Linked DNA regions of Homo sapiens. The protein of the gene in region 1 purifies or fractionates together with the protein of each later gene. This does not show direct contact. Each region holds a gene or a part of one and is shown in the gene's direction. Other genes may lie near its edges.

Region 1 (3,500 bases):
TGCAGCTCACGGGATAAGAACCAGGAAGAGCACTTGAGGTAGTAGCAGCCAAAGTTGAAAGTCTTGATAAGTAAAACACAAGAACACAAAGTCAGGAACACTAACACTCAAAGGGCCACACAAGTCCAAGGATTGGTGCAGACATACAAGAGAGTGGTTAAGCCCCAGAAGAGGAGTACCTGACTCTAAATGATGTCGCCCATCTTCTTTAGTGGGAAAAGCAGAGTAGAACTGAGTTTCATGGGAGAGAATAATTGGCCTACCTGCAACAGAGAGGACAAGGAGGCAGGTGTAGACAGATTTACCCACTTGAACCCATTATAGCCCTCATCACTGCTCAAACATCACTCTATTATCAACCCTATTGTTTGTGGCAACTAACTCTGCTAATGAAAATAAGTAGTAAGAGTGTAAGACACTGCTGTGGTTGGAATAGGTCTTCCAAAGCTCATGTGTTGAAAACTTAATCCCCACTGCAGTAGTGTTGAGAGGTGAGACCTGTAAGAGGAAATGAGGTCATGAGAGCTCTGTCCTCATGCATGGATTAATGGTGTTACCATGGGAGTGGGTTCATTACAGTAAGAGTGAGTTGTTATAAGGGTGAGTTCAGCCCCCACGTGCTCTCATGCTCTCTTGTCCTTCCACCTTCCACCGTGGGATGATGAAGTCCAAAGGCCTTTGTCAGATTCTGACACCTTGATATTGAGCTTCCCAACCTTCAAAACTGTGAGAAATAAATGTGTTTTCTTTATGAATTATCCAGTCTGTGATATTCTGTTATAGCAACACAAAATAGACTGAAAAGACACTTCGTCCTACTGTTGATTTGCATGATTCTTTCTCTACAGCTACCTCGGCCCTCCTCAGAGCCCAGGAACAGATACCTCCTGGAGTATACCACATCTCCCTGGTACTTACAGACAGTCAGAACAATCGGTGTGAGATGCCACGCAGCTTGACACTGGAAGTCTGTCAGTGTGACAACAGGGGCATCTGTGGAACTTCTTACCCAACCACAAGCCCTGGGACCAGGTATGGCAGGCCGCACTCAGGGAGGCTGGGGCCTGCCGCCATCGGCCTGCTGCTCCTTGGTCTCCTGCTGCTGCTGTGTGAGTAGCCAATGTTTCATTCTCTGTTGGACCAGGTGTCCTCATTTGCAAAGGCCTCCATGCTGCCCTGCTCATCTGTGCAATGGGGAAAGAATATTCTCTGATGTTTTATAGGTAAAGCTAGGGGAAAATGGCATTTTCAGAAAGAATCTGAAATGTGTAACATGTCGCTTGCTAACAGTCTATATTCATATAGCAACACAAGTTATATATGTCAGACATTTAGAAGACAGCACAAGATAATCAAGAGAAAAGCAAATCATGAAGACTTTCTACACACTGTTAGTAATGTTCATGGTCAAAATTATGGCTTTATCCAAGAGTGTGGCACTTTCTAAGATGTTTTCTCTATATTCATTACATCTCATGAGATTCTAAGATAAAAAGAGAACACTAGTCAAACAAAGTTAGGGAAATACAAATAGGGTATCATAGGCTATTAAGATATCACCACATGCTATTAATATTAATTAATTAATTAACCCCCACTAATATTAATCAATAGCATATGATATTAATATTAATATCATATGCTATTAAGATAGCTAGGTTCTGAGAAGTTATTGCTTCATCTAGCATTTCCTCAAAATAGATTGCCATCTGAATATGCATCCCCTTTAATACTTTCACATTTAATATAACTAAGTTTATTAAACACATTTAGAAAACTATGCGTAAGTATCCTTTTCCAATAAAGGTAAAATTTATTCAATAGATAGGTTTCTGAAAAGTTGTATTTGAATCAAAATCATATAAATCAAATAGTATTTGATTGTAAGAGGTCTCTATTTAAAAGAACTTCCTGACTAATTCTTGTATAAACAAGAGAAATCCTTGCTAAATTCACACTTTCTTAATTTATTATAAAAATCACAGTTTTAGAGTTAAAATTAATTATATGATTATTAATTTTAAAACCACAAAAAGTAGAGAAAATGTGTAGACAACTACACATACAACCATCACTTCAACTGAACAGATATGAATGTTTTGCAATATTTTTTCAGGTCCCTTTTTTTAAAAAGAAATAAATTGCTATAGATACAGCTAATTGCCACACATGCTATATTTTTCCCTTCCTTATTCTCCAAAAGCATTTACTATTCTAAAGTTATTATACACCATTTAGTTTAAGAGCTGAAATTGACACTCAGAGATTTGGTTTTTCAATATCGTATTAATCAAGTTCAAGAACCAGAAATTTTTAAGTACCTCTATGTGAATCACTATGCTAGCTTCTAGCTGAAAAGGAAACTTGATTTTGGTTTTCATGCATGTCTAACTATAGGGGAAAAATACCATGATAAAGCTGTAATAGAAATTACTACAAAGGGGTAATTACAGAACATTTCACGGAATAGAGGAATCATTCAATTGAGCCTTGAAGAATGATTAGGATATAATCAGTATAAAAAATGGAAAAGGCATTTCCAAAAATTGACAGCATCAGCCAAGGCCAGAAAACACTTAGTATTTTCTGTTTTAGGAATCACACAGCCTTCGAAGGCTAAAGCGCGGGGAAATTGTGGAAAGTGAAGGAGCAACAGAGAATGCATTGGGACTAATTTGAAAGGGCTACATACACATGCTGTGGTGTTTGTACTTTATCCTATGAGAAAGAGGAGCTGCTAAAAGCATTTGAATAAAAGACTAACATGATCATATTTGTATTTTAGAAAGACAACCCTGGCAACAGTGTGTACAGTATAACAGTGTAAATTAGAAAGGAAAGAACACTTAAGAGGTCATTGTAAAAGTTCAAGAGAGATGATGAAGGTCAGATTTCGAGCTGTGACATGAGACTGGAAAATAAAGGACAAGTGTGCAGTGCATTACAGTGGCCCCTGGAGAGGATTGGGAGATTAATTGTTATGGTCTGAATGTGTGTGTCCCCCCAAAAAAATTCATATGTTGAAACTTAAACCCTAAAAAAATAGTATTAAGGAGTTGGGCCTTTACCTATATTAATTCAATCCTCATAACAACCTATGATGTAGATACTATTTATTCCCCCATTTTATGGATGAGTTAACTGAGCAAAGAAGGATGATATTACATGCCCAACATTACATAGCTGTTAAGTGGTACAGCCGAAATTTAAACCCTAGAATCTGACTTCGGAGGCTGCATGCTTAAACCCCTCACTAAGCTGCCTCTAAGTGAAGAGAGTTGAAACATTAGGATTCAGGTGGCCTTGGCAGGGCAGAGGTGGCAGTGGGGCCACTGACAACAAAGTGTGGGAAACACCTGCTTTCAAGAATAAGTATTTCACTCTTGGTCAGTTCACATGAGAATGACATTAATCTTTATTGCCAAGGATGTGCACAGAAAGATATTTACGCTGCCAGAAGAGTCCTCCAAGCTTAAGCCACAACTAAGAAATTCTTAAAT
Region 2 (3,500 bases), on another chromosome or scaffold:
CTGTAGTCCTAGCTACTCAGGAGGCTGAGGTGGGAGGATTGCTAGAGTCCAGGAGATGGAGGCTGCAGTGAGCCAAGATCACGTCACTGAATTCCAATCTGGGCAACAGAGTGAGAACCTGTCTCAAAAAAAAAGAGAAATAGTCAGGATTTGAATCCAGGCTAATCTGGCTCCAGAGGTCATGCTCATAAATCCAAGGCTATGTGGGCTCTCCATGCAAATTATTTAATATCAGAATTATGGTTATAATGTTTCCTTTCTCCCTCCTTGTTAAATAAAATCATAACACCTTTCCAGGGGATGAGCATCTTTCCAAAAAACTTATCATCCCTGCACTTGTCCTCCCCCAGACTCTTCCCACTGCTCTGCACACTTTTTGTGCTCTGCCCTGCACCCTCTGCCAGGATTCTCACCTGCCATTTTTTCCTCACAGAAGTGCATCAGCAGAGGGGAGCTCCAGGTGTCTCTGTCATATCAGCCTGTGGCACAGAGAATGACAGTGGTGGTCCTCAAAGCCAGACACTTGCCGAAGATGGATATCACCGGTCTCTCAGGTAGCAGCTATTTACTTCAACCTATTTCTTACTGTCTGAACCATCCCCGACTCCTTGCCTGTGGCCCAGATAGACCTCCACACTTCAAGATCCTTGCCTCTTTCACTTTTAATCTGCTCCTCTTTCTGTAGACATTCTCTTCCTGATGAGTATCTACGTCCAATAGATTTCCCTGGCTAGGAAGATTCTTCAGTTGAACAAATGGGGTCTTTACATTTGGCAAGGTATCCTAAATAATATTCATGCCAGGTGCTAAGAGAGACTTCTCAAAAAGGCTGCAGGCATTTGTCTCTGTGCCCTTTAATATACTTCTTGGTATCATGGGATTTCTTCAGACCTAACCTGAGAAAGTTGTTCTGTTCTATTCCTGCTTGGTTTCCTTGGCCCCTCATCCAGGCAGGCAGACTCACATATAGTCAGTGTGTGTTTATTGTGCAATCACTAAAGAACACATGGGATGGCCATCAAAGATACGAACAACAGAGCCCCCCCTTTCCCAACATGAAATTACCATTACATAGGAGAGGACTGTGTCATAGGTCTGTCTCCCTTTTTCTTATCTCTTTGGGGGCCCCAGATCCTTATGTCAAGGTGAACGTCTACTACGGCAGAAAGCGCATTGCCAAGAAGAAAACCCATGTGAAGAAGTGCACTTTGAACCCCATCTTCAATGAATCTTTCATCTACGACATCCCCACTGACCTCCTGCCTGATATCAGCATCGAGTTCCTCGTTATCGACTTCGATCGCACCACCAAGAATGAGGTGGTGGGGAGGCTGATCCTGGGGGCACACAGTGTCACAGCCAGTGGTGCTGAACACTGGAGAGAGGTCTGCGAGAGCCCCCGCAAGCCTGTGGCCAAGTGGCACAGTCTGAGCGAGTACTAATCCTGTTCTTCTCTCCTCTAATCCCCGGGGGCCAAGCTGGGGAGGGATGTGGAGGGGAAAAAGATGACAGAGAAGTGGACTCCAAACCTCATTTTAGTTGTAGAAGAAAATTTCTTACAAAACAAATTCCACAAAGAACACCCTATATGACCACAGCTGCAGATCAGTTCTTAGCAATGATGTTTTTTTTTCTGCTTTGCAAGGCGCTAGAATCTTTTATTTTACTTTATTTTTTTTGAGGTGGAGTTTCGCTCTTGTTGCCCGGGCTGGAGTGCAATGGTGAGATCTCAACTCACTGCAACCTCTGCCCTCCAGGTTCAAGTGATTCTCCTCCCTCAGCCTCCCAAGTAGCTGGGATTACAGGCACCCACGAGCATGCCCGGCTAATTTTTTGTATTTTCAGTAGAGATGGGTTTCACCATGTTGGCCAGGCTGGTCTCGAATTCCAGACCTCAGGTGATCCACCCGCCTCGGCCTCCCAAAGTGCTGGGATTACAGGTGCGAGCCACCGTGCCCGGCCTCTGGTTTTGTTTTGTTTTTTTTTTTTAATGGGGGACAAAAGAGAGGGAAAGACCCCTATAAATCTATATATAACAATGTAACCATATACTTGCATGTCTAATACAAACTGAAGAAATTAGCCTAACTGCCAATATCAAGTTGCAGATTTTAATCCATGGAAATTGTGTTTTGTGCTGAATTGTATTTGCTGATTACCTGAAATTGGCTTCTTTTTATTGGGCTTCTCTGGAGAATTTCTCCCACTCCCCACCTCTGCAGAAGAAAATTTTGCTCTTATAAAACCTCATGTTTTCATCATTCCCATCTTTTCTTTTTATTGCCTCTTATATCTCTGCTCTTTGACCTCAAGGTCTAGAGGTCTGCAGTAAGCCAAGAAACAAAGGTGGGGTGGATGAGGCAAGGTTTGCAGGAGAAAGAGGAATTGAGAAATGGGGTATTTTTGCTATCAGCTCTTCTGCTATGAAGTAGTAAAAGGCAGTCTATAATTAACTGACAGACCTAACTGAAGCACAGAGAATACATCAGACTTATGCATCCAAGACATCAGAACTTGGATTTTATCAAACTTGATGACTTCTCTAAAAGGAGCTTTGGAAACTTCAAATTCAGCTATAGGATAGTACCAATGAACACATCCAGCTGATCCCAAAAGCTGTTTTCAGGTATAAGGACAAGGAGAGGAGACAAGTGACGACAGCCATTCCCCTTTGCAGCTATCTACTGTAGTGACAGCCATTTCTTGGTTGATGGGTTGGAAGTCATCAGAGGTTTGAAGAATTACACTGGCCTTTGTTTTTCTGGAAATGCCGACCATGGAGATGCTTTAGAGTCTTCTCAAATAGCTTAGATGTTGTAATGAGGTTAGCTTTGCTTCATAAAACAGGGGCCCTCAGAAGTTCTCCTTAAATTTTTCAATAAAAATTTAGCTCTTAAAAAAATAACAGTGTGACTGAGTGAATGAAGATAAGTTGGATTCTTTCAGAGCATTCTTTTCCTCAAAACGAGCTGCATAATTCTTGGAATTTATGTCTTACCACATGGTGGAGGGATGGAGGAACTACAGGATGCAATTCTTCTTCTACCAATGGGCAATAGAGGTTGAGAGAGATTCAGCATCTTTCTGGGATTAGAATTCAAGTCTCTTTACTCCTACAGCAGCTGTGTCTCCAACGTTGAGACTTTGCAGATGGCACAGACTCCATGGATAATAGGTAAACTTGGGGCCGGGCGCAGTGGCTCACGCCTGTAATCCCAGTATTTTGGGAGGCCGAGGTGGAAAGATCGCTTGAGCCCAGGAGTTCAAGACCAGCCTGGGCTACATGACGAAACTCCATCTCTATCAAAAATACAAAAAATTAACTAGGTGTGGTGCTGCACGCCTGTGGTCCCAGCTATTCAGGAGGCTGAGGTGGGAGGATCATTTGAGCCCAGAGGTAGAGGCTGCAGTGAGCCATGATCATGCCACTGCACTCTGGGCTGGGTAACAGAGTGAGATCCTGTCTCAAAAATTAATTAATTAATTAATTAAAATAAACT

What was found.
Region 2: the proteins of DSG3 (region 1) and SYT11 purify together in Homo sapiens (co-immunoprecipitation; one large-scale study listed by IntAct). This does not show direct contact.

The regions. Positions count from the first base shown.
Region 1 is NC_000018.10:31,468,241-31,471,740, forward strand, and holds part of DSG3 (desmoglein-3 preproprotein), read left to right. Parts: intron 1-848; coding exon 849-1,109; intron 1,110-3,500. UniProt on the Homo sapiens protein: A component of desmosome cell-cell junctions which are required for positive regulation of cellular adhesion. Required for adherens and desmosome junction assembly in response to mechanical force in keratinocytes.
Region 2 is NC_000001.11:155,880,067-155,883,566, forward strand, and holds part of SYT11 (synaptotagmin-11), read left to right. Parts: intron 1-433; coding exon 434-557; intron 558-1,122; coding exon of another isoform or gene 1,123-1,131; coding exon 1,132-1,442; 3' UTR 1,443-3,500. UniProt on the Homo sapiens protein: Synaptotagmin family member involved in vesicular and membrane trafficking which does not bind Ca(2+). Inhibits clathrin-mediated and bulk endocytosis, functions to ensure precision in vesicle retrieval.